Linked DNA regions of Homo sapiens: all the other regions are linked to region 3. The links come from fine-mapping of genetic effects on gene expression. A gene starts in region 3. Each other region holds a variant in brackets. All regions are shown on one strand. Distances are from middle to middle.

Region 1 (8,261 bases), 85 kb before region 3:
CCAATTCTGTAGGTTGTCTTTTCCCTTTCTTGATGGTATCCTTCAAAGCACAAAAGCTTTAAATTTCAATGAAGTCCAAATTCTCTTCTTTTGCTGCTTGTGTTTTTAATGTCATATCTTAGAATGCTTGCCAAGCCCAAGTTCATGAAGATTTACCCATTTTCTTCTAAGAGTTTTATAGGTTTTGCTTTGATAGTTAGGTCTTTTTTTTTTTTTTTTTTTTTTTTTTGAGACAGAGTCTCACTCTGTCACCCAGGCTGGAACGCAGTGGCACAATCTCGGCTCCTGGGTTCAAGTGATCCTTCTGCCTCAGCCTCCCAAGTAGCTGGGACTACAGGTGCACGCCACCACGCCCAGCTAATTTTTGTATTTTTAGTAGAGACAGGGTTTCACCATATTGACCAGGCTGCTCTCAAACTCCTGACCTTATGATCTGCCCACCTCAGCCTCCCAAAGTGTTAGGATTACAGGCGTGAGCCACCGCGCCTGGCCTCTTTCATCTATTTTAACTTGTTTTCTTTTTTCTTTTTTTTGAGATAGGGTCTTGCTCTGTCACCCAGGCTGGAGTACAGTGGCATGCTCATGGATCACTACAACCTTGACCTCCTGGGCTCAAGTGATCCTCTCACCATAGCCTCCTGAGTAGCTGGGACTACAGATGCACATGACCATGACCAGCTAACTTGTTTTTTCTGTAGAGACATGACTTTGCCATGTTGCCCAGGCTGGTCTGAAACTCCTGGACTCAAGCAATCTGCCCCTTTGCCTCCCAAAGTGCTAAGACTACAGGCATGGGCCGTCATACCCAGCCAACTTTTTAAATATAATGTAAGGTAAGTGTCCAACTTCATTCTTTTGCACGTGACTATCCACTTGTCCCAGCACCATTTGTTGAAAAGACTGTTCTTTCCCCACTGAATGGACTTGGCACCTTTACTGAAAATCAGTTGACTACAGATGTTTGCATTTATTTCTGGAATCACCATTTTTTAAAAAAATACAATGATCTATGTCTACCCTTGTGCCAGTAACACACTTCTTAATTACTATTGTTTTGTAATTCAAAATGAAGAAATGTGGGTTTTTCTACTTTATTCTTTTTCAGGATTTCTTTGGCTATTCTGGGTCCCTTGAAATTTCATATAACTCTTAGCATCAGCTTGTCAATTTCTGCAAAGATGTCAGCAGAGATTCTGACAGGGATTATGCTGAATCTGCAGACAAGTTTGAGGAATATTGTCATCTTAACAGCATTAACTCTTCTGATCCATGAACATGGCATGTTTTTCCATTTATTTAGGTCTTCTTTAATTACTTTCTGCAATGTTTTGTAGTTTTCAGAGTGTAAGTTTTGCACTTTTTGTTAAATATGTTATTAAGCACCTTATTCTTTTTGATGCTATTATGAATATTCTTAATTTCATTTTTGATTATTCATTGCAAGTGTGTAGAAATACGATTTTTTTTTTTTTGAGATGGAGTCTCGCTTTGTCACCCAGGCTGGAGTGCGGTGGCACAATCTTGGCTCACTGCAAGCTCCGCCTCCCAGGTTCATGCCATTCTCCTGCCTCAGCCTCCCAAGTAGCTGGGACTACAGGCACCCGCCACCACGCCTGGCTAATTTTTTGTATTTTTAGTGGAGACAGGGTTTCACCGTGTTAGCCAGGATGGTCTTGATCTCCTGACCTCATGATCCACCTGCCTCGGCCTCCCAAAGTGCTGGGATTACAGGCGTGAGCCACCATGCCCGGCCCAACTGATTTTTAAATACTGATGTTGTATCCTCCCATCTTGCTGAACTCACTTATTAGTTTCAATAGTTTTTTTTTTTTTTTTTGGTGGATTCCCTAGAATCTTCTACATACAAGATCATGTCATTTGTGAACAGTCTTTCTTCTTCCTTTCCAACCTTTATTTTCTTCTTGCATAATTGCAATGGCTTAGACCCTCCAGTACAATGTTAAATAGAAGTGTGATAATGGGCATCCTTGTCTTATTTCTAATCTCAGTGGGAAAGCATTCAGTTTTTCACCATTAAGTATAAAGAAAGCTGTAGATTTTTCATAGATGTTCTTTATCAGGTTAAGGTAGTTTCCTTCCGTTCCTCGTTTTTCAAACATTTTTATGATGAAAGGGTGTTGGATTTATTCAAATGCAGCTATTTTTGCATCAGTAGAGATGACTTTTTTATTATATTGATATAATGTATTACATTGATTTTCACATGTTAAGCCAATCTTATATCCCTGGGATAAATCCTACTTGGTGATGGTGCATAATTATTTTTATATGTTGCTGGATTTGGTTTGCAGCATTTAGTTGAGGATTTTTGCAGGTATTTCATAAGACATATTGGTCTGCAGTTTTCTTGTAATATCTTTGAGCAGTTTTGTTATCAGGGCAATACTGGGAAGTACTCCCTCCTATTTCTTGAAAGAGTTTGAGAATAATTGCTATAATTTATTTGATTGTTTGGTAGAACACAGTGGTAAAACTGTCTGTGCCTGGACTATTCTTTGTGGGCAATTTTCTGATTCCTGGTTTAATCTGTTCACTAGTTATAGGTCTATTCAGATTGCCCATTTCTGTAAGGTTGGTAGTAGTGTCTACTCTTTCATATCAGATCCTAGTAATTTGAGTATTGCCTTTTTATTGGTCAACCTAGTGAAATATTTGTCATATTTATTGATCTTTTCAAATTACCAGTTTCTAGTAATATTTTCTCTATTGTTTTTCTATTCTTTCATTAATTTCTACTCTAATTTTATTATTTCCTTCCTTCTGCTTGCTTTAGGTTTAGTTTGTTCTTCTTTCTTCAGTGACTTAAGGTGGAAGAAAGGTTATTGCTTTATTTCTTCCTTAATACAGGCATTTACACCTATAAATTTCCTCTAAGCACTTTTTTAGCTGCATCCGTACAGTTTACTTGTGTCTTAATTTTCATTAGCCTCAAAGTGCTGATTACCTTCTTGTTTTCTTCTTTGGTCTATTGGTCATTTAGTAGTGTGTTGTTCAATTTCCTAATTGTGAGTTCTTCAAATGTTCCCATTTTTTATTTCTAATTTAATCCTGTGATTATGTTCACAAAATGCACTTTGCATTATTTCTATCCTTTTAAACGTATTGAAGTTTCATGGTCTAGCATAAGGCCTATCCTGAAGAATGTTCTATGAGCATTTGATAATGTATATGCTGTAGCGCTTGGGTGAAGTGTTCTATAGATGTCTGTTAGGGCTAGTTGGTTTACAGCGTTGGTCAAGTTTTCTATTTCATTGTTAACCTTGTGTCTAGTTTTGTCCATTACTGAAAATAGGTTATGGAGTCTCCAATTATTATTGTGACCATTTTCTTCTTCCATTTCTGTCAGTTTTTGCTTTCTGTGTTTTGATACTGTTAAGTTCATACATATGTTTACAACTGTTATATCTTTTTGATGGGTTAACCTTTTTATCATTATAAAATGTCTCTATCTCTAGGAGCATTTTTGTCTTAAAGTCTACTTTGTCTGACACTAGTATAGCCAGTCCAGCTTTCTTATGGCAATTGTTTGCACTATTTCTTTTTGTATCCTTTTAATCTATCTGTGTCTTTGAGCCTAAAGTGTGTTATCTATGGGAGCATAGATAACATAGAGTTGGAATGTATTTTTAATCCAATCTGATAGTCTCTGCCTGATTAAATTCATTAACATTTATTATTGATAAGTTGAATACACATTACTTTTTGTTTTCTAGTATCCATTGTGTTCTTTTCATTCTCTTTTAATATTGCCTTTTGCATCGAGTATTTTCTAAGGTAGTATTTTAATTTGATTAATGATTTTTCAACTATATTTCTGGAGTTATTTTATTAGTGGTTGCTCTAGTGTTTACCATATACATCTTATCAGAATCTGTTAGAATTACACAAGCTTAACTCCAATAATATATAGAAGCTTTACTCTTATATAGCTATATTCCCTTTCCCCCTTTTTGTGATATTTTAGGTATACATATGGTATCTATTAATGTTACAAATCCAACACATTGTTATAATTATTACTTTACCATCTGCCATCATTTAATTAGTCTACTACAGCTTTGCTCCCAGCCACCTCCTTTGTGCTGTTTTGACAAATGTTACATATATGACATTTCTGTATGTTATAGACCAATACATCATATACGTATTATTTGATACAGTTGCATTTTAATCAGTTAAGAGGAGAAAAATATGCATTTATGTGACTTTTATAATTATATAATTGCTTTTACTGGTGCTCTTCTCTTGCTTTCAGCCTAAAGAACTTCATTTAATACTTCTTATTAGGCAGGTTGGTTAACAACAATTTTTCTGTTTTTGTTTATCTGGGAAAGTATTTCACTTATATTTTTGAATAATACATTTGCTGGATATAGGATTCTTGGTTGACAGTTTTTTTTTCTTCAAGCACTTTGACTGTTATACCTGCCTTCTGGCCTCCATTATTTCTTTTGAGAAGTCAAGTATTAATTTTGTTCTCTAAGTGATGTATCTTTTTTTCACTCACTACTTTCAAGGTTTTCTCATCTTTGATTTCAGCATTTTTGACTATGATGTGTCTGTGAATCCCTCTGCATTTATCATGCTGGAAGTTCACTAAGCTTCCTAGATGTTTTTCAATCAATTTGGAGAGTTTTCAGTCATTGTATCTTTAAATATTTCCTTTTTCTTCTGCTCTTCTTGTACTCCCATTACATGCATACTTAATGGTGCACATAATGGTGCTTCACATTTCTCTGAGGTTTTGCTCATTTTTC[A/AT]TTTTTTTTCTCTCTGTTCTTTGGAAAGCATATCTCTCTTATTCTATCTGCCAGTTGGCTGACAATTTCTTCTGCCAGTTCAAATCTACTATTGAACCCCTTTAGTGCATTTTTTCCTTATTATAGTTTTTAACTTCATGAATTTAGCTCTTGCCACTTGAAGCTGGAGGGGATAAGAAATGCTGGCATCTTGCCCCTCCCTGTGAGGTACCATACCTCTGGACAGGGAGCTGAGGGAGACGGAGCTCTGTTTTCTTGGCTGCACCCACTGAAATGGGAGGGAGGGAGTGAGTGTGTTGTGGCTGAAATGTCTGACTCACTGTTCTTACCAAGATTTGGATTTTCTTGAATAAGCGTTACTTTATTCTACATGCTTTTAGGACAATTTCCAGTGGCATTAAGTGTTTGTGTCTCTCTGTATGAGAGGAAGGTGTTTATTTTTTGTTACAATTTTCACTAGTTATAGCTAATTCCTAGGACAGTGGGTCCACAGGGCCCTTCACATTGCCATTCTGGAAGTGAAAATCTAAAAGATATTTCAATGTTAGAAAATTTAACTGTGTACTTTACTACACCAAGAAAAGCTATACAATTATATCAATATATACCAGAAAAGACTTTGAGGACAATCATTCTACCATTTGTGATAATCAATTATGATACCACAATGATAAAAACAGTGGGTTACTAAGCAAAGTTAGATAAATGGACCAATTTAACAGAATGCAGAGCCAAGAAACATTTCCGTACATTATATGTAAATTGGTAAAGGTGGCCTTATACATCAGGAGGAAAATAATAAACTATTTTTTAAAGGTGCTAGGGAAACTAGCTATCCATATGGGATTAATAATTCATAAGAATGTATTCATGACCCTAGCTAGGGAATGGTTCTTAAATAAACAAAAAAAAATGGAAAGACTGAATTTACTATATTTTAAAACTTCCGTATGATAAACATCACAAAATAGATATGTGAATATGCTAATTCTCCATATTTTTATGTAAGTTAAAAGACTCACAACCAAAACTAAAAATCTATAAAACACCTAGGAATAAGCCTATTATGAAATGTGCAAGACATTTATGAAGAAAGTTATTAAAATTTCATCCAAGAATATAAAAGACTTTAATAAAATGAGGCCTATCATAACACTAATCAGAAACATTATATTAATTATAAAGAGGTCTATTATTCTCAAATTAATGTGTAAACAAATGCAATCCTAGTCAAAAGAACACCACAATTTTACTGGAATTTAATAAACTAATTCTTGATTCAGCTGGAACAGAAAACACCCAAGTATAAGACACTGAAGAGGGGGAGAAAGGAAAAGGAACTTGCCCATGAATGGCAAAACACAATGCAAAGCACCAAATGACAGCGTGAGGAGTGTGGTTGGTAGAACCAACACCTGGATCCACAGGACAGAAATAGACAACTTAGCATGTGATGAGTTGAAAGCTGACATTTTAAACTGGTGGAGAAAAGAATATTTGTTGATCATTGGAATAACTGCCTTTTTGTTTTTGTTTAGGGGAGCAATCCTAAAAGATAAACAACCCACAGGAAAACTAGGCCAACATAACACTAATAGGCAATGTACGGTAGAGATCTACAAATGGCCAATAAACATGGAAATGTTTGATTTTGTACGTAATCAGGGAAATTCAAGTGAAAACAAGGTACTTTCAATCACGAGACTGGTTAAAACAAAACAAAACAACCTATCGATATTGATACCACTTACTGTTGGCAAGGGTTTGGAGAAATGGGTCCTTTTATGGAGGGTGAATTGATGCAAGCAATTCTGCTACATCCACTGACATTTAAAATCTACATCATTAATCCAACAATTCTGTGCAGGCAGAGCTATACTTACAGGAATAGAAATGTCTTGCATATAATATTAAATGAAAAGTTAGTTGCAAAATAAGGATGGTATAAGGCCATTAATATAAATTACATATTTAAAGCAAACTAATTGCTATAATAGACTTCAAAAGACAGTAGCTTAAGCAAGTCAGTATTTTATTTTACTCTTAAATAACAGGTCAAAGGAGAGCAGTTCAAGACTGGCAGGCCAACTTCTCCTTCCTCAACACATCACTTCCATCTCTTGAGATGCCAGGTCACTACTGAAGCTCCCATTGGCCTCCCAGCCAGCAAGAAAGGGGAATGTCAAGGAGAGTGCATACCCTGCTTCTTTAAAGGGCCAATTGGGAAGTTTAAAACTTAGTCATATGGCCACAATTAACTATAAGAGAGGCTGAGAAGTAGTCTTAAGCTGAGCAGCCAGACGTCCAGGTAAAACTCAAAAATTTTATTAGTAAAGGAAGAATGGGAAAATGACATTATAGCAGCAGTCTGTGTCATGTGATTCTCTAAATGCATGGAGAATACACACCAAACCTAGGGCTGTACTTAGCTGTGGAACAGGTGCAAGATGGTGTGGGGGTGGGGAGGCAGACTATTGCTTGAACATTTTTAATGGTGATAGTATTAACATTTAATTTTTTGACAAAATTTTAAAATCCTTTATTTGTGCTGATAAAGCATGTTAAATACATTAAATCTATTTACACTGTACAAAGCTTTTAAAGTTCTAAAAATCAGATTTTTATCTAAATGAATAAATTTCTCTGTATTGTTAAAACCATTCTACTTAACTGCATTGTTCTCCAAGTCCCTCCAGCCAGGAGGCACGGTAACAATGTGTCAGATCTCCACACTGAGACACCACCTTCCCAAGATCATGGTACATCAGCAGCAGAACTGAGACAAAAACTGGAACAAGGACCACCTTGCTCCTACTGCATTATAGCTTTTGATAGTATTTGCTACTTGAAGAGGAGGCTATACCTTGTCTAGCTCAATACAGTTTATGTTTCAGACACTATAAGTATGATACCCAAATGCTTCATGAGTGAACAAGGTCAGCAGATCACCCTGAGAACAAGGAAGACACAATTTCCTTATAGGCTAATGATTATAAAAATAGAAATTAAGAGCTCCCCAGAAACAAACCACTTAGTCAAAAAGGAAGGAGTTTTGACTTTCTTCTAAGCCAAGTACTCAAGTTTAAGACTTATTGGCCTATTTAAAAATTCTTTCTATGACTTCTAAACAATGATGGCAAAGTGACAAAAATAATGTAATCATCTTCTTCCCTCATTATATATAAACCAAACTAAAAACAAAAGAAATGAACAAGCTATAATCCAAAAAAAACTAGAAAATCCTGACAGGAATCATATAGAACATCTCTAAGAAAAGGATTCTTGGCTTAAGCAAAATATTAGAGCAGAGAAAGCAAAACTCATGTCCTCTCATGCAGTCCGGCAAGGCCCCCCTGCCCAGAACCCTCCTCTCTGAGTCACATGGATGAGCAGACAGAAGATCTGGACACAGCTATCCATGTTAAGCATGAGAGAGATGTAAAGAAATAGCAGGGTAGGAGGGCAGGCATACTACAGAAAAAT
Region 2 (8,261 bases), 73 kb before region 3:
TGGAGAAGACATGAAAACACTCCTGGGAAGATAGACTATCAGACTTAAACAAACAGAAAGACATCCCTTGCATTTGAGTAGAATGACTCAATAACCATTTTCCCTGAGTTAATTTATATGTTTAATGTAATCTCAATAAAAATGTCAACCTTTCTTATGAAGCTAGACAAACTGACACTAAAGTTCATACAGAACAATAAACCTTCATGAACAGATCAGAAAACACTGAAAAGGCAAAGTAACACCCTATTGGACAATAAAACACGCTCCAATTACAACAGTTTGGTGCTGAGGAAAGAAGAGACACAACAGGAGATTGACCAGAAAATAGAAATAGATTGAACTGCATTTGGAAATGTACTACATGATAAAGGCATCTCTAATCACTGAGAAAAACTTATTTGAAATAAATGATGCTACAAACGTTGGGGCACAAACGTTGGGGCATTTTATCTTTGAACCAAGATAAAATCCACACCTCATACTCCAAATGGATCAGAAATCTGAATGTAAAAAGCAAAACCATACAAGTAGTACAAGAAAACATGGCGAATTATCATATGATCTATATGTAGAAAAGGCTTAGAACTACAATTCCAATTAATAAAAGACTGACAATTTTTTTAAAAAAAAACCTGTTTCATAGGAAAAAAATCATAATAAAGGACAACCAATGAGGAAATACTTGTAACATATATGAAAAATGAAAAGCTAACATCCCTAATATATAAAGAACTCTTTAAAACCAAGGGGAAAAAGGGACCAAAAACCTGATTTAGAAAATGGACAAAAGACATGAACAGACAAGTTCACAGAAAGAAAAATTTTTTAAATATAAATGGTCCTATAAAAAGTTCAATTTCACTCAAAGAAAATAACTGGAAATTAAAACTTAAGATATCCTTTCTCACCTATCAGATTGGGAAAAATTAAAAGTGTAACACCACACTCTTGACAAGCCTCTGGGCAACAACTGCTCGTGACAATTCAAATTGATCTAAACCTTACAAAAGGGAGTTGGGCATTATTCAAACAAACAAACAAAACAAACTTACATATGTGTTTACCTTTTGATCTAGCAATTCCTCTTGTATAAGCACAGGATTATTTAGTGCAGCACTGTGGCTAAAAGAAGCTATAAAAAATCTAAATCCTCATATGTGGATAAACTGTGGTACAGGTTGAATATCTCTTACCCAAAATTCTTGGGACCAGAAGTGCTTCAGATTTTGCCTTTTTCAGATTTTGGAATAATTGCATATACCTAATGAGACATCTTGGGGATGGGCCCCAAGTCTAAACACAAAATGTATATATTTTTAACATACACCTTACACACATAGCCTGAAGGTAATTTTAATATAATACGTTTATCAATTTTGTGCAGGAAACAAAGTGTTAATTGTGTTTTGACTGTGACCCATCACATGAAGTCAGGTGTGGAATTTTCCACATCTGGCATCATGTCAGTGCACAAAAAGTTTTGGATTTTAGAGCATTTTAGATTTCAGGTTTTGGGTCAACATAGCAGAGCACTCTAGCAATAAAAATTGCTAAAGGAGGAATAGCTCTCTGTTAATTAATACTGCAGTGGCTGTCAGGATATATGAAGTTTTTTTAAAAAAAGGAACAGAAGATAATATAGTATACAACCTTTTGTGTAAGAGAATAAGGGAATATAAAATTATACATGTGCCTGCTTATTTCTACAAAAGAAACATATAGTTCAGCTGTGTCCCCACCCAAATCTCATCTTGAATTGTAACTCCCACAATTCCCACGTGACATGGGAGGAACCCAGTGGGAGGTGATTAATTATGAAGATGCGTCTTTCCTACACTGTTCTCATGAGTGAATGAGTTTCATGAGATCTCATGGTTTTAAAAATGGGAGTTTTCCTGCATAAGCTCTCTTTGCCTGCTGCCGTCCATGTAAGATGTGACTTGCTCCTCCTTGCCTTCTGACATGACTGTGAGGCCTCCACAGCCACACAGAACTGTAAGTTGATTAAACCTCTTTCTTTTGTAAATTGCCCAGTCTTGGGTAATGTCTTTATCAGCAGCATAAAAATGCACTAATAAAGGCAACTGGTACCAGTGGGGAGGTGCGCTCCTGAAAAGATATCCCAAAATGTGGAAGCAACTTTGGAACTGGGTAACAGGTAGAGATGGGAACAGTTTGGAGGGCTCAGAAGACGAGAGGAAAATGTGGGAAGGTTTGCAACTTCCTAGAGACTTCTTGAATAGCTTTGACAAAAATGTTGATAGTGATATGAACAGTAAGGTCCAAACTGAGGTGGTCTCAGACGGAGATGAGGAACTTGTTGGGAATTGGAGCAAAGGTGACTCTTGTTATGTTTTAGCAAAGAGACAGGCGGCATTTTGCCCCTGCCCTAGAGATCTGTGGAACTTTGAACTTGAGAGAGATGATTTAGGGTATCTGGCGGAAGAAATTTCTAAGCAGCAAAGCATTCAACAGGTGACATGGGTGTTGTTAAAGGCATTCAGTTTTATAAGGGAAGCAGTGCATAAAAGTTTGGACAATTTGCAGCCTTACAATGTGATAGGAAAGAAAACCCCATTTTCTCAAGAGAAATTCAAGCTGGCTGCAGAAATTTGCATTACGTAACGAGGAGCCAAATGTTAATCCCCAAGACAATGAGGAAAATGTCTGCAGGGCATATCAGAGACCTTCATGGCAACCCCTCCCATCACAGGCCCAGAGGCCCAGGGGGAAAAAGTGGTTTCACGGGCCTGGCCCATGGTCCCCATGCTGTGTGCAGCCTGGGGACTTGGTGTACTGTGTCCCAGCCACTCCAGCTGTGGCTGAAAGGGGCCAACAAAGAGCTCAGGCTGTGGCTTCAGATGGTGCAAGCCCCAAGCCTTGGGAGCTTCCACACAGTGTTGAGCCTGAGGGTGCACAGAAGTCAATAACTGAGGTTTGGGAACTTCTGCCTAGATTTCAAAAGATGTATGGAAACTCCTAGATGCCCAGGCAGAAGTTTGCTGCAGGGGCAGGGTTCTCATGGAGAATCTCTCCTAGGGCAGTGCAGAAGGAAAATGTTGGGTTGGAGTCCCCACACAGAGTCCCTACTGGGGCACCACCTAGTGGAGCTATGAGAAGAGGGCCACGGTCCTCCAGACCCCAGAACAGTAGATCCACTGACAGCTTGCACCATGCACCTGGAAAGGCTGCAGACACTCAATGCCACCCATGAAAGCAGCCAGGAGGGGGGCTATACCCTGCAAAGCCAAAGGGGCAGAGCTGCCCAAGACCATAGGAACCCACCTCTTGCATCAGCGTGACCTGGATGCGAGACAAGGAGTCAAAGGAGATCATTTTGGAGCTTTAAGATTTGACTGCCCTGCTGGACTTCAGACTTGTGTGGGGCCTATAGCCCCTTTGTTTTGGTCAATTTCTCCCATTTGGAATGGCTGTACTTACCCAATGCCTGTAAC[C/T]CTATTGTATCTAGGAAGTAACTAACTTGCTTTTGATTTTACAGGCTCATAGGCAGAAGAGACTTGCCTGGTCTTGGATGAGACTCTGGACTGTGGACTTTTGAGTTAATGCTGAAATGAGTTGAGACTTTAGGGGACTGTTGGGAAGGCATGATTGGTTTTAAAATGTGAAGATATGAGATATGGGAGGGGCCAGAGGTGGAAAGATATGGTTTGGCTATGTCCCAGCCAAATCTCATCTTGAATTGTAACTCCCACAATTCCCACATGTCATGGGAGGAATCTGGTGGGAGGTGACTGAATTATGGGGTTGGGTCTTTCCTGTGCTGTTCTTGTACTAGTGAATGAGTCTTATATGAGATCTGATGGTTTTAAAAATGGGAATTTCTCTGCACAAGCTCTTTGCCTGCTGCTATCCATGAAAGATGTTACTTGCTCCTCCTTGCATGATTGTAAAGCCTCCCCAGTCATGTGGAATTGTAAGTCAATTAAACCTCTTTCTTTTGTAAATTGCCCAGTCTCTGGTATGTCTTTATCAGCAGTGTGAAAACAGACTAACACAGAAACACATGAAGGAAATGCCAGAAACTCATGAGACTGGTAAGGTAAGGAAGGGGTGGGGACAGGGTGGGGGATGACACTACTCTGGTATTCCTTTTTGCATATTTTGTCTTTTGTTACTATGTTAATGTGTTACTACTCAGAAGATAACATAGAGTCAACAAGGATGGGAGGAAACCCTAAAGTGGAATACAAACAAATAAATTAACCTAACTGTATTTTAAACTGATAGCACACACTGAAAATATGATGAAGGGTGAGAAAAAAGAACTAAGTTATTTTTGACTCAAGTAGTGTTTTGACCAAAAACTTAGACTAAAGACAAAAAGAAATAAAAACAAATATTGAACTTTAGTTAGTATAAATAAAAACAAATATTGAATTCTAGTTAGTATAACTGTTTCTTGCCATAGTTCAGGTCAGAAATTGTAAAAAGCTACCATGTATCCTAGGATTGACAAGTAACTCAGTACGTTGTGAATGAAGGTCTTGAAGAAGGAAGCTACAAACATGGAAAGGGCCCTAGGGTGCTGAAATGAAATTGGAGACAACAGTATTCCCTCATCTTATTTTGCTTTTTGGAGCTTATTAGAGTGTAACTGATATGCAATAACTGCTAAAGTACAGTATTTGGTAAGTTGTGACATTATGTACATACCATGAAACTATCACTACAATCAAGACAATGAACATAGCCGTCACCTGCAAAACTCATGTCCCTTTGTAATCCCACCGTCAAATACCCCATGCCCAGACAACCAATCCAATTTCTGTCATGACTGTGTGTTTTCTAGAATTTTATGCAAACGGCATCAGAGTATGTACTAATCTTACTAGTCCGAAAGTCATCCATGCTGTAGCATGTATCAATACTCTACTTCCTTTTATTGTTGATTAGTATATATATTTTTTGAGACGGAGTCTTGCTCTGTCGCACAGGCAGGAGTACAATGGTGTGATCTCGGCTCACTGCAACCTCCACTTCCCAGGTTCAAGCGATTCTCCCGCTCAGCTTCCCAAGTAGCTGGGATTCCAGACACCCACCATCATGCCTAATTTTTGTATTTTTGTAGAGATGGAGTTTCACCATGTTGTCCAGGTTGGTCTCGAACTCCTGACCTCAGGTGATTCACCCACCTCGGCCTCCCAAAGTGCTGGGATTACAGGCGTGAGCCAAGCCCCACCTGTCGACTAGTATTTGATCATATGGATATGCCATGGTTAGTTTAACTATTTACTTGTTGGTAGACATTTGATTTCTACATTTTTGGCTATTACTAATAAAGCTGCTACGAATATTCATGTACAAGCCTTCGTATGGACATATTTTTCCATTTCTCTTGGGCAAATACACACCCAGGACTGAAAAAGCTATATCACAAGGAAAGCGCATGCAACTGCCAAACTGTTTTCCAAAGTGATTGTGCCATTTTACATTCCCACCAGGCGTGTATGAGACCCAACTGCTTCACATCTTTACCAACACTTAGTATGGTCAGTCTTCTTTCATTTTAGCCATTCTAGAGGGTGTATAGTGGTATCTCGTTATGGTTCTAATTGGCATTTCCCTAATAACTAATAATATTAACAAGTTTCATATATTTATTTGCCATCTACATATCTTTCTTGGTGAAGTCTGTTCAAATTATTTGTCCATTTAAAAAATTGGGTTATACATTTTATTATTTTTTGACATGGGGTCTCGCTCTGCTGCCCAGGCTGGAGTGCAGTGGCATGATCACAGCTCACCACAGCCTCAACCTCCCAGGCTCGAGCAATCCTCCCAGCTCAGCCTCGCAAGTAGCTGGGACCACAGGTGTATGCTACCACACCCGGCTATTTTTTTTTTTATTTTTTGTAGAGATAGGATCTCACTATGTTGCCCAGGCTGGTTTTGAACTCCTAGGCTCAAGCAATCAACCCACCTCAGCCTCTCAAAGCACTGGGATTACAGGCTGAGCCACCACACCCAGCCAGTAATTTTTTATTGGGTTCCAGACATTGTGAATTTCATCTTGTTGGATGTTGGGTATTTGTATATTCCTGTAAACACTCAGGTAGGGCTGAAGCAGTGCTCACTCTAAGGCTGATCATTCCCTACTACAGAGGCAAGACCCCCTACTCTGTATCATACCCAATGCCCCATGAAATATTTTTCCAGTCTTAGCTGGTGGGAACAGGCACTATCCCTGGCCATGGGTGAGCACCAGACATGTTTCCTCTAATTCGAAAAGTTAAAGAGGAAAGGCCTTTTCACTGACCTTAAGTAGTTTTCTTGCACAATGTGCTGGTCAGTATTCAGCTGAGTGCCAGTGGAGACTCTGCAGACCTGTGGGGTTCTCTCCCTGTGCAGAGCTGTCTCCGCTATCGTCTCTTGCATGTGAATGCCAGCCACCCTGGCCTCCCCTGATGCTCAGCTCTGCCTTTTCAACAGAGGGTCTGCCTGGACTCCCATCTGGGTTCTCCCTCTTTCTGTTACAGCACGAAAATTCTCTCAAGGCAGTAGGGCAGGGCAACTGGAGAGCTCAGTTCATTTGTTTCCCATCTCTCAAGAGATCACTGCCCTTTGGTGTCTGAAAACCATTGCTTCATATGTTTTGTCATTGTTTTCATTGTTTCACATGGAAGGGTAAATGTTAATCTGCCTTTGCTGGAAGCCAAATTCATGGTTTTCACAGACATAGAGACAGGTGTATCTGTGCAATTTGTTGTGCATATATATGCACGTATGTATGTGTATATGTATGTACACAACAAACACATACACACACATACATACATCTATTTCCTGATACTATTGGCTACGAAAGCAATGACATAATAGCAGCAATGAACACTCTGAGAACCCGGATCCTAGTTCCTAAATACCATTCTCCAGGGTTCCTTGAAGAAATGGCTGATTCCAGGGCTGGCACAGAATACAAATTGAGCTCAGCATATATTAGTATGCCAAGAAGAAAGGAGGTGCTCAAAGAATGGTGGGGACATACCAGAGGGACAAAGGAGCCAGCTTGAAGGAGCTCCCACCCATGAGGCAAATCTAAGACAATACGAGCATCATAATACCCCTACTAATGGATTACAGTCATGGAAAAAAAAAGAATCCATTAGTCCACACTGATCTAAAAATAAATTAATAAATAAATAAGAGAGAAGGAAAACCTTCCTTACAATAGAATGTTAATCACCATTTGGCAACCATTGTAGTAATAACTGACTGAGGAAAGAATCATCAATAGATATTAAAACTAGTGGATAAAAGTTTGATGAGAAACAGGATATTTACACAGTCTCAAAGCATATTCCTTGAAAGCACAAATTAATTACAAAGGTAAAAATATTAACCTTAGCATTGAGAAACCTGGCAGACTCCACCTTAACCAAGTGATCTTAAAAATCAACTTGTAATAGGTCAAACCAGCATGTGTCTCCTGATAGATGCACTGAGTAAGATACGGTATCACCTCTGTGGCATTCCTACCAAAAAAAAAATGTATGCATAGATGGGTGTGTGTGTGAATGATAAAGCAAAAGCTGAAAAATGTTAATAACTTAGATAAAGGATATAGGAGAGTTCTTCGTATTATTCCAACTGATTTTTTTTTGAGACCCAACTGATTTAAGTTTGAAATTACTTCAAAATATGAAATTAACAAAAAAATTAACCATGCTAAATAAAAGTCTTTCTGAAATGCTACACATAAACCTGCCTTCTTAAACTGAGTACCATAAGCAGCAATCTTTGGTAACTCAAGGCCATCACATTGTGAACACAGTGACTGCTAAGGGATCACTAAGCAGGGCTATCTATATACTCCATGGTCTTGAGCAATTGTTGAGTCTACATCTCCTAACTTTTCTCCCTTGACATAAGCTATCAGCTTTCATACTTCTAGAATGTCTGTCTCTAGCCACACGCTTGTCCCTCTCCCTTATGATGTTACTTTAATCTCCTGTGGTTGGAAAATCAGATTAATGTAGCATATAGCATGTAAAGTAACTGCCTACTAATGTTCAGGTAGTACACATCGATTTAAGAATTGCACACCTCCCATGAGTGGCCATAAGTACTATTGTTTTCCAAAGTTTCAAATTATTCTAGGTCTTCAGAAAAGAGGTGTAAATACGATTTTTAAAATGTCAATATATTTCAAATCTAAATTTTTGAAGAAAAACACTAATGGCTGACAGCCCTCTATGCACCATCAGTTAAAGACTGCTACTGCTAGAAACAGCCTACTC
Region 3 (8,261 bases):
ACAGGGAAAAATAAGGGGGAATGTTCACATTGTACTCCACATACTCAGGACCTGCTGCTTTAAGGAGAATATATTCACTATATTACCTATACAACTATCACATCTAATAAATATATTAAAAAGCAAAACGATAACCAAAAATCAGTCTTGCTTTTTGTTTAACTGTGAATAAGATTTCTTTGAGCACTGTAACTTTTCTGTTAAATGACAAGTTCCCCCAGTGGGCCCCACTCATCCCTTATTAAGTAAAATAAGCCCAGCAATAAAGCACCGGGATACAAAGAATTCAGCATCATCTACACCCGAGTGGCTATCCACTGGAGCAGCAGCATGTCAGTTAACAACAGAGCAGGGCAGGTCAGCTAGCCCGGGACACGGACAAGAGGTCACACGAGCATCGAGCGAACTATATATGGTGTCTGGGGCCCAAGAAATATCACGGAGGAACTGAGATTTGAACACATGGGCCATGCATGGTCTGATATATAGGAGGTGCTCAATATCTGCTGAAAGGAAGTGAGGTTCAGAGCTAAGTCTAAAATAATAAAAAGTTTGGTCTGGACAAATGAGTCACCAGTGAATTCAGTCACAAAAATGAGACTCTCAAAAAGGAAGCAGATAGGAAGCAGGACTGGCAAGCAGCTTACATGTAATCAGTACCATTTGCAGCATGCAGTCAGAAATGCAAATCTGAGCTCAAGGGAAAGTCTGGGTGACATGTGGACACATCAGCAGAGTGAGCAGTTCCAGGGTTCCCAAGGCTCTGACAGGTACCTAAGGTCATTTTGGAGGGTACGAGGAGGCTAACATTGGAAAGGTTAAAAAGTGAACAACACAGTGAGAAAGTTCCTTCTTTTGGGGCCTGCTGATTATTTTCAAGAGGAAGGCTCAGCTCACCTCACTTTCCAACAGAGAGAGCAGGATTCCAGCTCAGAGTGTCTGTACTAGCTGGCAGTTAACAATTCTGTTTTCATTTTTCTTATTTGTACACACATGAGGATTTCTTTTTAAGAAAAAAGGATGCCAATTCAACCAAAAATATTAAGTAACCATTTTTCTATTTCTGTAAAATAATATCAAAAAGCAATAGTATTGTAGTGTAAAGACAAGGTTAAAAATAAAGAAGTTTGGGGAAAACTTCTAATAATAAAAAAGGAGGAAGAGCGTCCAGTGAATGAGAAAAGGCTGAGTGAATTTGGATACCAATGGGTCACCATTTACCTTGGTAAAAGAAGTTTCAGGCCAGGCTTGGTGGCTCACACCTGTAATCCCAGCACTTTGGGAGGCCAAGGCGGGTGGATCACCTGAGTTCGTGACCAGCCTGACCCAACATGGTGAAACCCCATCTCTACTAAAATACAAAAATTAGCCAGGCGTGGTGGTGCATGCCTGTAATCCCAGCTACTCGGGAGGCTGAGGCACGAGAATCGCTTGAACCCAGGAGGCAGAGGTTGCAGTGAGCTGAGATCACACCGCAGAACTCCAGCCTGGGCAACAAGAGTGAAACTCTGTCTCGAAAAAATAAAAAAGTTTCAGTGGAGCGATAGGGCCAAAAACCAGACTGTAGTGGTTGAAATGTAGTTGGTGTGTAAGGAGTGGATGAGGAAATGGAGGCCACAAGAGAGTGGCCTGTCCTTTAAAGAGCTTGCCTCTGGCAGGGAGACAGCTACAGTGATAAAGTAATAATGGATTTGTTGGGGGTAGGGAGAGAACTAGGGCAAGAAAAACTAGAGCACGTAATGGCTGGAGGGAGACAGAGGAGATAACCCAGAAAGGTGTACCAAAAGAGACAGCAAAAGTGGAAGGTCGCAAGCAGAAATGAACAGGAGGCACAACACATCTTTCTCGGACTCTGGCAGAAGGAGGATTCCTGATAGATCTAAATTTGCAGGTGGAAAGGAGGGAAGCTGAAGTGGATTACAGACAAAATATCCCACAAAGCAGCAAGTTGGGCAGTTCCTGAGTCAGGAGACAAAGTTGGCACTGGGGCTAAAGACTAAGAGTCTGGAATAAATGTCCTGTACAAGAGAAAAGGGAGTTGACAGGGAACAAACACTGATGATTGCTGTGGAGGACCTACCTGAGGATCTCCCCAGCCCTGCAAAGCCATAGACTGCTAACAATCTCCAGGGCTGAACAATCTCCTCCTTCAGTAGTCCTGGGGGAAATGTCACTATTGAGGGTTTTCAGAGCAGAAATGGTAGCGCAAAAGAGTCACGGGGTTGAAGATGCTGAGAAGAGTAGCTGAAGCAACTGACTTCAGGGTCCAAGCTGGGTAGGTTTAAAAAAACAAAAACAAACAAACAAAAAAACAGAAGGGGCCTGGAAATGGGAGAAAGGGTTCAAGAAGTCACTTAGTATCTGGCAATGGCCAGAAAACCAAGTCTTCTGGAAGTGAGAGTTGGAAACCAGAAGGCTCTTATCAGGTTAAAGAATTTCAGAAGTGAAATAAATCATACATTTGCCGGGAGCGGTGGCTCATGCCTGTAATCCCAGCACTTTGGGAGGCCGAGGCGGGAGGATCACGAGGTCAGAAGTTCGAGACCAGCCTGACCAACATAGTGAAACCCCGTCTCTACTAAAAATGCAAAAATTAGCTGGGCATGGAGGCGCGCGCCTGTAATCCCAGCTACTCGAGAGGCTGGGGCAGGAGAATCGCTTGAACCCAGGAGGCGGAGGCCGCAGTGAGCGAGATCGCACCACTGCACTCCAGCCTGGGCGACAGGGCAAGACTCCGTCTCAAAAAAAAAAAAAAAAAGAAAGAAAGAAATCATACATTTAACAAATAGTTACTGAGAGTTAATTACACCAGGCAATGTACTAGGTTAACTAATTCCTGTCCCCAAAGAGCTTAGAGTCTCATGGGAAAAACAGACATTTAAAAACTATATATATATATATACACATACACACACACACACACACACACACACAAATATAATTGTGGTGACTGCTGTTAAGAGGAAAGTACAAGGCTTTCTGACAAAATGAGAGAAACCAAATTGAAATTGTGGAGGTAGATGTGGGGTCAAGGAGGCCTCTCTGATAAAGTGACATCTGATAAGTCAGTCAGGTCGAAAGTAAAGTGAACGTCTTGCAAGGAAACAACGTGTGAAATTTTTTTTTTTTTTGAGACGGAATTTCGCTCCGGTTGCCCAGGCTGGAGTGCAACCTCCGCCAGGCTCCGCCAGGCTCACTGCAACCTCCGCCTTCCGGGTTCAAGCGATTCTCCTGCCTTGGCCTCCCGATTAGCTGGGATTACAGGCATATGCCATCATGCCCGGCTAATTTTTCGTATTTAGTAAAGACAGGGTTTCACCACGTTGGTAAGGCTGGTCTCGAACTCCTGACCTCGGGTGATCCACCCACCTCGGCCTCCCAACAACGTGCGTAACTTTTAAGACTAGAAAGAGCTGATGCACTTGTGAAAATGCAAGAAGGCTGGAACACCGAATTTTTGACTTTATTTTTAACTTTGAGTTAAGAAGAGCAGAGAAGGGCTCCGTTCATGGCCTAAGTCTTGCAGAGTATCTTCTAAGGCTTAATCATCTGGGACACTAGTATCTTCACCGTCCTCCCCCATCACTGGGGCTCCCGCAGCCAGGGGCAAGCTGGGTCTCATTTGGAGGGTTGGTCGGACACAGGCACAGTTCTGAGAGGGGACAGGCAAGGGCCAAATCACACAAGGCCTGGGAAAACACGAGCATGGATTCCACTCCCAGTGCAATGGAATGACTCTGAAAACTGTTAAGTAGGCTGATGATGGCATGACCTACTTTATGCCAGAGACCACCTGGACAACTGTGCGGATAATGGATTGGAGGAGACAAAGCAACAAGAAGATGATGGGAAAAGTTGAGGAGAAAAGCGAGGGCTGCCTGTCACAGGATGACAGCAGTTAAGACGCTGCGTGGAAGTCACGTAACAGCAGCATTTACAGGCGGCCTGCCTCATCCGCCCACACTCTTATCAATTTGACTCTATCAACGCCCAAAACGTCGGACGTACATCTAGCCCGACTCTCTTTAAAATAACAGCTCCAGCATTTTAATCGAGATCAAAAAGGACCCAGCTGACCCTGCGCGCAGGGGGCCTTATACAAAGTCGGAGAAGTAGCTGGGTCGCTGGCCGGCCAGGGACTCAAGCCGCCTCAGGTGAGCGCTCCTTGGCGCTACTTCCGGTCTCAGGTGAGGCCGCCGGAAGCGGGCACTTGGCCCTAAGACCCGCTACAGTGCGTCCTCGCTGACAGGCTCAATCACCACGGCGAGGCCAAGGCGCGGGGCCGCGGCCCGCCCGAGAAGCCTGAGCTGGGCCCCGACACCCCCTGCCCGACATTCGGCCGGGACCCCCGAACACTCACCCAGGGCCGCGCGAGCGCCCACAAGGAAACAGAGACGCTACCGCCGCCAGCCGCCTTGGAACCCAGCTCGACGGGCCGTGGCGCCTGCGCCCTCAGCTCAACCATAGACACCGCCCCCAACAGCGACTCCGACTTCTGCTGGTGCGGGGAGGCCCGTGGCGCATGCGCCTGGCTCAGCGTTTGTTTTTAAGCACGGGCAAGACCACGTGGTTTGGAGGGACGGGCTCAGCAGCGCCTTTCTACTTGCGTGCGAGCAGGGCGAGAAAGCTGTCTCCGCTGCCGGTCAGCTGGGTGGCTTGCGAAGGACGCTTCGCCCCTAGCGAAAAATACCCTGCTGGCAAGGCAGTTATGAAAGTTAAGACATATTTCCACGTAGAGGGGGATGCGGGTGTGCCATGCGAATGTAAATCCTCACAATTAACCTTGAACCCTGCAGAGAAAGTCAGCTTGGGCAGGGAAGTTAGCCGCACTTTTTGGTCGCCAGGCTGTGACCTCTCTTGTTGTCTCCCACGACTGAACACGGGAAGGATGGAGAGCTGTCCTGCTTCTCTGTTCCCCCTCCGCCACGCGCGCACCTGGGCGGAGTGAGTGCCTACAGAGCCTGCTTACATGTGTACATTGCCTTAAGTCCAGCGTTTAGTATCCGTCCTCAGATCTCAGAGGTAGGCGGGGTTTCGAGGCAGGCGAGAATTTTACCGTGGTGCGTTTGAAGAAAGAAGATGTCCACACAGAGGTTCAGAACAATGGGAGGAAGTTGAGCTTCGCCTGGGGAAAGAAGCAGCCCACGATGCAGGATGGCTGTACCAGACAGAGCTTCTCAGCTCAGGATCGGTGCTAGGAGAAGGTGGACTTTCCAGGGCCGCGAGGCAGGACGTCCTCTGGGAGGGCAGTGACTGCGGGTCACTGCCTGGGAAGTGCTGTCCTCACTTGGAAGCCTGAAGTCGGACAATAGGGAAATGGGGTCGGAAAGGGGACTAGGAAATGCTCCATAACATCATCTTATTCCTCCTGTCAGCGGCCCCAACCCACAATGTAACTTGTTTTTGTTGGTGGTAGTGGGTTTTTTTGTTTGTTTTGTTTTTGTTTTTGTTTTTGAGACGGAGTTTTGCTCTTGTCGCCCAGGATGGAGTACAATGGCACGATGTGGGCTCACTGCAACCTCCTCCTCCCAGGTTCAAGCGATTCTCCTGCCTCAGCCTGCCGGGTAGCTGGGATTACAGGCGCCTGCCACCATGCCCAGCTAATTTTTGTGTTTTTAGTAGAGACGGGGTTTCGTCATGTTAGCCAAGCTGTCCGCGAACTCCTGACCTCAGGTGATCCACCCGCCTCGGCCTCCTAGAGTTCTGGGATTACAGGTGTGAGCCACCACGCCCGGCTTGTAACTTGCTTTTTTTTTTTTTTAAAGGAGAAAGAATTCTAGCGATTTCTTGGATAAAATATTAAGAATAGAAAGGCAGTTGATTGACATTAGTTTCAATGCTTGAAAGTAAAAGCAGATATATAGTGGATCCCAACTTTTGAGACTGAGGTTCCCTTTGCAGCTATTTTGGAGACCCTTCCTATATCAGAATTTGGACAGGAAAAAATGGTCCACTCAAAAGGGGAAGTTGAGAGTTATTATTTACAAAGACGTGGGCGGGGTTCAGGAAAACAACTCAGGGTGGCACAACTGGAGCTATTAAGGGCCGAATTGTGTCCCCTCCCCAAAATTCATATGCTGGAGTCCTAACCGCCACTCCCCACCCCCACCCCGGGACCTCAGAATGTGACTGTATTTGAAGATAGGGTCTTTAATGAGGGAATTTAGTTAAATGAGGTCCCAAGTTATTTAGCAAGTCGTCCAAGCCCTTTTATACTCCTGCCCCATCTAATTTTTCTGCATCACTTGTGTCCTTCACTCCCTGGATGCCTATGCTCAGGATTTAGGGAACTACTTACTCTTCTCCCAGGAAGGGTGTGCTACAATTGGCTTCTACGGCCTAGCAAGCATACTGTTCACCTCTTCCCAGCTGCCTTAGCTCAGGCTGCCATAACAAATGCCATAGACTGGGCAGCTTAAACAACAGGCATTTGTTTCTCATAGTTCTGGAGGCTGGGAAGTCCAAGATCAAATGCAGGCAGATTTAGCTCATTTAGGGGAAGCTCTCCTCATGGCTTGCAAATGGTTACCTTCTCACTGTGTCCTTACATGGGGTAGAGAGAGGGCTCTGTCTTCCCTTTCTTCTAAGGCATCAGCCGTATTGGATTAGGGACTCACCCTTATGATCTCATTTAACCAGATTTGCTGCCTAAAGACCCTGTCTCCAAATAGTCACATTGAGGGTTAGGGATTCAGCATATGAATTTGGGGGGCACCCAGTTTAGCCCATAGCACCAACTCTGCCTTTGTTGACTTCACATTAATAGCTTGAAATCAGCCATAGTAGGAGTATTTATACCACAGAAATGGACAAACTATAAACTGGAACTTTGGGGGAGAGGCAATTATTAATCTTTTCCCACATACCCCTACTTGTTATTCTGTCACTTCTGTGATCTTACAAGCAGGTCCCTCTGCTTAGAATTCTCTTACCCATTCCAAACTCAGACAAAGTTTCTCTTTTCTGAAGCTTTCCCCTACCCTCTGACAGCAATAGGCTCTTGCATCTCCTGTGTACCCCCAAACCAATATTTCTAATGTCATTATTATAGTAGTTATTGATTTGGATTTTAATCCATTTTCCCTACCATTTCCTAGCCCTTACTCTAAGCTGGGCATTATTTTAAACACCCCACCCAAGGGGTTCTTCCTGCCCACTGCATAAAGAAAGACCATAGCATTGTGGTAGAAAAAGAGCTTAATAGACACGAGGCCGACCATGCCAGGTGGGAGATGGAGTGCATGCTCAGGTCATCTGATCCAAAGTCCGAAGCTCATAGGCTGGGGGTTTTTCAAACGCAGTTTGGAGGAAGGGGTGGGAGTGGCCAGGTAACAGGTGCTTGCTGCTGATTGGTTGAGGCTGAGATGAAATCATAGGGGGAGTCAAAGCTGTCCTCCTGCAGTCTGAATCACTTCTGGGTGGGGCTGTGGGAGTGGGGTTGGCGGTCCAGGTGGAGCCATGGGTGTCAGACATGCAAAAAACCTGGAAAGATATCTCAAAAAGCTACAAATAGTGGTTGTATTAGTCTGCTCTCGTGCTGCTAATAAAGACATACCCAAGACTGGGTAATTTATAAAGGAAAGAGGTTTAATTGACTCACAGTTAAGCATGGCTGGGGAGGCCTCTGGAAACTTACAATCATGGTGACAGGGGGAGCAAACATGTCCTACTTCACATGGTGGCAGCAAGGAGAAGTGCAGAGTGAAGGAGGGGGAAAGCCCCTTATAAAACCATCAGATCTCGTGAGAACTCACTATCAGAACAGCATGGAGGTAACCACCCTCACGATTCAGTTATCTCCCACCGGCTTCCTCCCACAACATGTAGGGATTATGGAAACTACAATTCAGGATGAGATTTGGGTGGGGACACAGCCAAACCATATCAGTGGTGTTATTTGCAGGAGTAATTGGGAAAGTTGAGTATCTTATAACCTCCAGAATAATGACTGACAATCGTTCATATCTGCGCCTTAGCAGGACTCAGGCTCCTCTCCTCCCCCACAGCCTGATAGCTTCCCATTAGCTTTACAAAAACAGTTGAGTTTCAGGCAAGGTCTGTTATCATGTAAACTATAGCCTAAATGTCTCTCAAAGTTAGCTGGCCCCAGTAGCTTAGAAATAATTAAGGGAAAGGCAAGATAGGTGTTGGAATGGGGGCGTTAACTCAGACCTCTTTCACTGTCATAATTTTCTAACTGATATAATTTTTGCAAAGGTGGTTTCATTGTCTTGAGTGCTTTACTAATGTTAACTTGTTTA
Region 4 (8,261 bases), 22 kb after region 3:
TGTAGGGGCATGGGGGGAGGAAATCACATTTGCACATTACTGGATTAAAATTCCCCAATTCAGTCTGTTACAGTCTCTCATTCCTTTTTCTCTCCCTAATATTTGGAACTAGTGGCACGCCTGGCCTTTGGAGAATGGAGGAATGAATGTCTGAGTCTTTGCTCATGTCCTCTCCAGCTAGTCAGTCTGGTAATATTCTAGGAGTCCTCCATGATTTAACTGAAATTCCAGCCCTTTTCTAAGCTTTTCCAACACCCAAGGCTCAACTCTACCTCAACACTTAACCAAAGTGTTTTGTAATTGGCTGGATCAATGTCCATTTCTCCCACTGATTGGGGATTGAGATCTCTGCTGCCCCCACCCACAATCTCCATCCTCCGGGGACACAGGATACCATGCCAGCCCCAACCCCTCTCCCACAGCTTCAGGGATGTCAGACAAAGAGATAGCCTCTCCATCCATCAGCTTGGTGGCCCCAGATCTCAGAGCCAGAAGCTGTTCCAAGGTTGTAGGAAGTGGTGAAGCTTCAACAACTTGCTTCCTCCAGCCTGCAGGAGCCCCCACCCACAGCCCACCTCATTTCTGTGAGGTTTGTGTTTTGAGACCCACAGATTCTTCAAGGTGCTTTTTAAGATTTCCTACTCTCTGCTGGCAAATTGTTAATCAGTTTGTCGCAGCATAAATAAAATTAGAGAGTTTAATTAAAATGAATGAGTGAGTGGAGACCAGCCTGGCTGCTTTGCTCTTGAGCCTGAAATGAGTAAATAATGAATGTGTCACCAGCAAGTGATGTGCTTTAGCAGAAGTGTGAGGGCAGCAGAAAGGAGGCCGTAGAGAGCTCCTCCACCCATAGCAATTTGCAAGTTGGTGGAATCTCCATTTGGGTGTATCTTGTTAATAAATTCTGCAGGAACTGTTTCTGTTTTCTAGGCCTTCCAACAAAAGTGATGACAGGGCCACACACAGGATGCCCATTCTCTGGGCACCTCTTAATGTCATGGTCTTTGTGAAGGGGAACAGTGGACACACGGATGGGGCAGCACCATAGACATTTAGTGGACGGGATAAGGAATTCTAACATTCTCCATGTGTAAGATGCAGAAAGAGTTGTCTTACATCCCACAGGACTTTCAAATGCTTTCCCAGACATTCATGCAGGAGAGAAATGTTTTTATGATTATTTAGGCCTAGACCTGAACTCCATGTAACATAAAGTCCTTTTTGCACAGTTTTCTATGCAAGGCATTTTTCTAGAAATGCAACTACTGTGTGGAGTGAGGTAAGCTGGGACTGGCAGCACTTTTAAAACCACATCCCTGATGGAAACACCCCTCCTAGTGTTCACGTCTCTGGTATAGCACACTGTGACAGTCTGCATCCGAGACTGATGCAATGTGTTATAGCAGACATGGCCGCACTCGTGTTGACTCTACACACAGGTACAAACATCTTACTATTCACTTTGTCTTCAAGGCCAGGCCTGCCCGAATATTTACATGTTGAAATGAATATTCTTTTTTTTTTTTTTTTTTGAGACAGAGTCTCACTCTGTCACCCAGGCTGGAGTGCAGTGGCGCAATCTCGGCCCACTGCAACCTCCGCCTCCAGGGTTCAAGCAATTCTCCTGCCTCAGCCTCCCAAGTAGCTGGGATTACGGGTGCCTGCCACCCTGCCCAGCTGATTTTTGTATTTTTAGTAGAGATGGGGTTTCACCACGTTGGTCAGGCTGGTCTCGAACCCCTGACCTCGTGATCCACCTGCCTCAGCCTCCCAAAGCACTGGGATTACAGGCGTGAGCCACCACGCCTGGCCAATATTCTTTTATTATAAATTACTTTCCTTTTATTCAGTGAGGGCATTATACTGACTTTGGAAAAACTCTTTGTGTGTGTGTGTGTGTGTGTGTGTGTGTGTGTGTGTGTGTATGTGTGTGTTTAGGAGGTATTAAGAGATATTTGTTACAGAAATGGGTGCACTGGGCAGATGAGTTTGAGAGGATCCCTGCTCATGTCAACACATGGCCGGGAAAACTGCTGAGAGGATTTTGGATAATGTATTCTTCCACTGCTGCTCCTGTTCCCAGTCCCCATCAACCCCTCACTTCTCATTCAAGTCCTAGGAGATATCGAGAAGCCATGTCAGGGCCCCTGGAGCAGCTTGTCAGTCTGGGCACATGGGCCCAGTCTAAATCCTCCACCCAGCTGGCTGCCTGCTCCTATCCCCCATTCTGTGCCCCCGCACCCTCTCAAGGAAGCCCAAGAGTGTTCCTTACCAGGGTTTCCTGACTCTCCCACCTGCTGTTATGTCTGGGCTGGGTGGCCATGAAGGTAGGGGTCCAGGCCTGACCTGAACACAGAGGTAGCATGGTAGGGAGGATTCCTCATGTAAATCAAAGAAAATGACTGAAGTCAGTCTCAATCAATTCAGAAGTTTATTTTACCAAGGTTGAGGATGTGCCTGGGAATTGGAACAAAAATCACAGGAATATCTGTGATCCATGTTTTTTCCAAAGAGGGTTTGGAGGCTTCAGTATTGAAAGAGCAATGAGCAGACAGAGGAAAGAGAAAAAGGGGAGGGTAGATAAAAGAGCCAAATGGTTGCATTCTTGCCAGGCTTTGGTCAGCGTTCACAGAATCCACATTGCACATGTGAAAAGAGGGGGTAGAGGAACAGTCAACTATGCACTGGTCTTGTGCTCAGTGAATCTGCATTTTTTACATAAAATAAAGGAAATATAGAGTAAAAAATGCAGTCATATATGCCTTTGTCTCAGGTGGGCAGAGGGACAAACACAAGTCCTGTCTGTCCTGTACCTGTGAAGATAGGCTGTTGATTAAATTGTCAGAGTGAAATTCAACAGAAGTCGGTTTTAGGGTAAAGATCTTCGGCCCACAGGAATTTCCTTGTAAGCGAATTTTGAGGAGGCCCCTGGGGATGTGTGTGGCTTCTATCTTTGCAGCTATCCATTTAGGAAATGGGAGGCAGTTTTGCGTGACTCAGTTCCCAAGCCTAACTTTTCCCTTTGACATAGTGAGTCTGGGGTCCCGACACTTTTATTTTCTTTTCGCACAAGATGACCTGCAGGATTTCCCAGCCCCCGCCTCTGCCTTTCTTGTAACTGCATTCCAGTGGAACTTTCTCCCTCTGCCTGGTCCAGCTTCCCTCCCTTCCACACTGTACTGTTACCAAAAGCACTTCCCAATGAACTTCCTCTGCCTGAGAGTCTGTTTCCCAGGGAACATGACCTAAAACAAATGAGGCCAGGAGTAGTTCAAGAAAGTAGACTCTAAAATGGGATTTCAAGGTTGTATCGCCCACTGGTTGACACTGAGGATCCCATAACTGGGACAGGTGGAGTCAAGAGTCCCGAGCATGAAGAAGCAGGGCAACTATTAACACACATGCCATAAACTTGAACAGCATGAAATGGGCCATGAACAGCAGTGAAGGGATAATGCAGGCACAATGATTCAGGCACCATAAAGTAATTAT[T/G]AAGCCAAACTGGTTGACCCTTACTGAGTGCCATTGATACATCGAAGAAAGACTTCAGAGTGATTGATTATCAATTAAAGGCATAGTGTGAAAGTCAGAGAGCCTTCTTGGCAACATAAAGAGATTCTCATCTCTTGCAGAAAAAAAGCTGAGATCAGGCCTGGGAGTTGACTCACTCTAAAAGTAGTAGAATTCTAAGGAAGTTGAATTCTCACCCCCAGCAAGTCTGCAGTTCCAAGACCAAAGCCTGAGATGGGAAGGAGTGAGACTGTGAGGGACAGGGACATCTGGGTCGATGCATTTAAGAACTTTGCCCCCTGAACTCTCTGGGTCTTCAGAAGTGGCCCACTCCTCTTTATTAAAGGCTAGAATTCTCCTTTGCTTAAAAATAGGGGGAGGCATCTGCCTTGCTACATAATATAGACCTCCTCAGGATCTCCCCCTACCCTCTCTCCTAATCACCAGACCAAGAACTAGTGTGAAAGCACAACATATATCCTGGCTATGAGTACTGAGTTGACCAAGAAAGAAAAGGAAATTTAAGACCTAGCCACCATATACCAACAGAAGCTGATAGTGTGGACAGGTGAACTGACTTGCAGAAAGGTATGGACATGAGGCAATAGAATATTGAATTCCTAAGAACAAGAGAGGAGGGAAGTCAGTGAAGGCATTGCTCAATCTATACAATCAAAAGAAAGTTAGGATGATGGGCAGAAGGCTGAGGAAAGCCACCTCAATAAAAGTCAAAATTTGTCTTAGTCATAGTGTGGTCTGCCATGATGGAGTACTGTAGACCAGGTAGATTAAACAACAGAAATGTATTTCTCACAGTTCTGAAGGCTTGGAAGTCCAAGATCATGGTGCTAGCAAGGTGGGTTTTATTCTGACTTCTCTTCTCTTGGCTTGCAGGCTGCCACCTCTCACTATGTGTTCACATGAACTCTTTTTGCATGAGTCGGGGAGAAAGTAAGAAGCTCTATGGTATTTCTTATTATAAGGGCACTAATCTCATCATGACAGCTCCACCCTCATGACCCCATCTAATGCTAATTACCTTCCAAAGATCCCGTTTCCGAATACCATCACATTTGGGTTAGGGCTTCAACATATGGCTTTGCGGGTAGAAGACACAAATGTCAAGCTCTAACATAAACTTTTGCCCAGTTTTTGGCCCTGAGACACTTTTGGGACCTGAAACCCATTGACTGAAAGAGAGGCCAGGTCCTCAGAAAGAAGGTCCCCCTGCAATCACACACGATCTCCCAGCTTTAAGGAACTATTATCTCGAGCGTTCTATGTCAGCCCCAGAAGTACAGGCTGTTCCTTGTATCTGCTACCACTGTGTTCTTTAGCATTCTCTTTAGTTTTTACTGCCCGATCTCTCCATTCCTCTGTTATAGTTAATAATTATTTATATTAAACTCCCTGCATTCTAATTATTGTGTGGTTTCTCTCTCCTGAGTGAGCCTTGACTGATACTGAATTGGTACCCCAAATGGTTTTATCTCCCCCCTCTAATTTGCATATATGTTACTAAGGCATCAAAAGAACTTGCTACTTCCTGCTCCTCAGATCTCATCAGCACAATGTTATCAATGCAGTGGGCTACTGTGATGTTTCATCAGATGTCAAGATTATCCAGACCTCTGTGAACTGTAATGTGGCAGACAGCAGCAGAATTGACTAGCTCTGAGGCAAGAGTGTGAAGGAGCATAGCTGAGCCTGACAGGTGAAAAGCAAACTGATTTGCTGGTGGTCCTCATAAATAAGTGTTGAGAAAAGGGTATCAGCTAGGTCGACAGCTGCATACCAAGTACTAGGAACACTTTTTCTAGTAAAGCTATACATTTGGGACAGCAGCTGAAATTGGAGTCACCATTTAAGTTTACAGCAATCCACAGTCATTCTCCAGATTCTTCTGACTTCTACACAGGCCTCACTGATGTATTAGATAGGGATGTGACAACTATCATTACCCCTACTCTTCTTAAGTCTTTTATAGTGACATCAATCTCTGCAATTCTCCCAAGGATATAATATGGCTTCTGGTTTACTAGAAGTTAGTTAGTTCTTAGGCATTCCAATCATAATTATCTTCATCTCATAGATCAGAGAGGCCACATAGTTGCCAAGTGTGTCTATCACCGTTATACATTCAAGAACTGAGGGCTTCATGTAGTGGCTCGTGCCTATAATCCAGGCATTTTGGGAGGCCGAGACTGCCTCAGCCCAGGAGTTTGAGACCAGCCTGGGCAACATGGTGAAACCCCATCTCTACAAAAAATACAAAACTTTAGCTGGGCAGGGTGGCACATGCCTGTAGTCCCAGCCACTCAGGAGGCTGAGGTGGGAGGATCACTTGAGCCCAGGGAGGTCAAGGCTGCAGTGAGCTGTGATCAATCCCACCACTACCCTCCAGTCTGAATAACAGAGCAAGACCCTGTCTCAAAAACAAAACAAAACAAAAAATGAACTGAGGAAATAACTGCAGACTTGGTCTGTAGACCACAGGGCCCACTGTGAGTCAGACCTGGGCTAAGATTCCATCCCCTGACACCATAAACCCCCACTCTGACTGGTGAGCCACTGTGGTATTTTGGCTCCTCAATAATCAGTGTCAACTCAGAGCCAATGTCATAATCTTGGAAAAGTCTGGGAGTTCTCTTCTCCCAAATGCAGTCACTCTAATAAACAGCTACAGGTCGCTTTGGAGAAGACTTAAAGTAAGATTTACAGTGGAAATTTGCAATAGTGATGCAGGGTCCCTCCTCAAGGGGCTTCTTTATTCAAGGGACACGCTAAGTACATAAATTGCCTTAGATCTAGAAATGGGGTGAGAAGCTGTGACTCAAGCCAGACTTTTAGCTACCAGACCTAGAGTTTTTCCTGTTATACAGATCAAACAATGTAGTGAGCTGTCCATCTATTTGATTCCTGGGAATGCCATATCAATTGACCACTGCCAAATATCTCTGTGGGTCAAGGCATTCTGACTGCCTGCATAGCCCTGCTGCCCTTTACAGTGAATGTGCCTCTGGCAGTTAGGTGCTGCCTCTTGGCCTATGATCCTCTGGGATTTCAACCTTATTGAAACCAGAGCCCATCTCAATGCAACATCCCCTACAGTCATATCTGCCCTGCAGAAGAAATCCACTGCAGAGCTGACCAAGGGTGCAGATGCTTTGCTCACTAATGCATTTCTCAATGCCTTAGTCAAGGGAGTGTCTTCTGGGCCTCCTGCTGGAACATAGGTTGGGGGTAGATACACATTTGCAAATGATAAATCCAGCCCAACACTCCTATCTCCATAGCCTTTGGAGTCCATTTATCGAATCATATTGGCCACTATTTTGTCCAAGTTTTAGTCAACCAACCAGGTAAGCCATTAGAATCACCTTCAGCTGCATGAGCAAACACACTAAATCCAGAATGTCCAATAAGAGCACCCATATTCACAATCAGGGCTGATCTAGTGTTAGATTCCACCCTCCTTGGTGTAACGCCCTTAGAATGCACTTCCACACATGCATCCTAGGCTTCTGACAATATACATTAACAAAACCTTATTCTTTCTGTGTGTAAGCTACTTCTTTTTGGGTCACTGTGTCTACCTGTTCTCTGGAGCATGCTGAGATTTGACACTAGTTATGGGTCTATGTGCATATGGTTTGATTGGGTCTTGAGGAGAAAGGGCATCCCCTTTCAAAGCATCTGCCTCAGGTGAGCTTATCACAAGATTCTCAAAGAAAAGGAAGGCTATTATTCTCAGACACCGGAGGGCAGGCTCCTTCCATGGGTAAAGGAATATCAGAGCGACTTGGAGGTCTAAGATTGTCAGTTTCTTCTGGGTTCAACCAGAAGCTCCCATTCAAAGTTTCAGAATCCCATTCTTTACCAATCAATGTTCTAAATTTCCAGTGCAATTCGGCAAAAAATTAAGTTGGTGTTTTATTTTCAGCATTATCAGTCCAGCTACCAAAAATAAGAGATTTTTTTAGGGCTCTCCAGTTTTCAGACTGTGACTCAAGCTGAGAGTAAACAGAACTGTGCTTCCCATTTTCTCTTTGTAAGTACCCAAGTGTGCTTAAGAAGAAAATCTGCCTCACATTGCAGTCCTCATAGTCATCATTACTGCCATCGCAGTGCAGTGCAGTGGCACTGGGGTTCCCAAGAGTCTTGCTTCTGCTCGTTCTTCATCACAATCAGCCATAGGTGACAGCTTGATTCAGTGTGGCACCGCCACATGCCATGGGTTTCTAGCATTCCACTGCCCATTGGCAAGGAGCTCAGAACTGCACTTAAGCCCAAGGGCCTGACCAAACCAATGCAAATTTCTGCCTGTGTGGCCTTTCTCCTGGGATAACTCCTGATATCCATTCTGTACCAGTGAGAATCCAGTCAGAAGAACAAAACCAGACAGTAATTTTATCAGGAAAAAATTCAACATAAAAAATTATTAATATATCAGAGGATGAGCGTGATGAAGGATTCTCTGGTAAAAAGTCAAGAGAACTTGAAATAACATCAGAATGGCAGCTATAAAGAGCAGCTACCACCCCTAGGGCTGAGATGAAGTTGCCAGAGAAGAGGTCCCTCAGGCTGAGATGCAGACCTTGTAGGAGAGGACATGGCCAAGGGTCACTGAATGGCAGAGAAGTCACAGTGGGGCTGCAGCTAGGAAGAAGAGCCTCATGGAGAGGACTTCCTGATAGAAGCTGCAACATGAGGCAAACTTGCACAGAGAGTAAAGACCCTGGCCTCTTTGA

Alleles and levels. Alleles are on the strand shown, and positions count from the first base shown. SD is a standard deviation of normalised expression in the study named. Not every link is listed here.
With allele A in place of AT in region 1, the expression in sigmoid colon of the gene that starts at base 4,520 in region 3 is lower (small effect, 0.22 SD a copy in GTEx).
With allele C in place of T in region 2, the expression in spleen of the gene that starts at base 4,520 in region 3 is lower (small effect, 0.40 SD a copy in GTEx).

Evidence for each region. PIP is the estimated chance that this variant, and not a neighbour inherited with it, causes the effect. A credible set is the group of variants that fine-mapping cannot tell apart.
Region 1: its variant is the best candidate, but not a certain one, in a credible set for the expression of ERCC6 in sigmoid colon (GTEx, PIP 0.53).
Region 2: its variant is the best candidate, but not a certain one, in a credible set for the expression of ERCC6 in spleen (GTEx, PIP 0.66).
Region 4: its variant is the best candidate, but not a certain one, in a credible set for the expression of ERCC6 in T cells (TOPMed, PIP 0.76).

The regions. Positions count from the first base shown.
Region 1 is chr10:49,449,358-49,457,618 of GRCh38, forward strand. ERCC6 (ERCC excision repair 6, chromatin remodeling factor) reads right to left here. Exons shown (of 21, transcript NM_000124.4): 21 at 5,113-8,261. Among named protein-coding and RNA genes, the nearest start is that of DRGX, 57 kb to the left of the region's middle. The variant A/AT (reference allele first, on the strand shown) is at 4,779.
Region 2 is chr10:49,461,874-49,470,134 of GRCh38, forward strand. All of the region lies in intron 18 of ERCC6 (ERCC excision repair 6, chromatin remodeling factor), which reads right to left. Among named protein-coding and RNA genes, the nearest start is that of PGBD3, 58 kb to the right of the region's middle. The variant C/T (reference allele first, on the strand shown) is at 3,459.
Region 3 is chr10:49,534,602-49,542,862 of GRCh38, forward strand. ERCC6 (ERCC excision repair 6, chromatin remodeling factor) reads right to left here and starts at 4,520. Exons shown (of 21, transcript NM_000124.4): 1 at 4,361-4,520. RefSeq lists enhancers at 173-332, 1,491-1,540, 1,571-1,630, 4,873-4,932, 4,963-5,202 and silencers at 3,029-3,217, 4,163-4,452.
Region 4 is chr10:49,557,058-49,565,318 of GRCh38, forward strand. No RefSeq gene overlaps it. Among named protein-coding and RNA genes, the nearest start is that of ERCC6, 22 kb to the left of the region's middle. The variant T/G (reference allele first, on the strand shown) is at 3,493.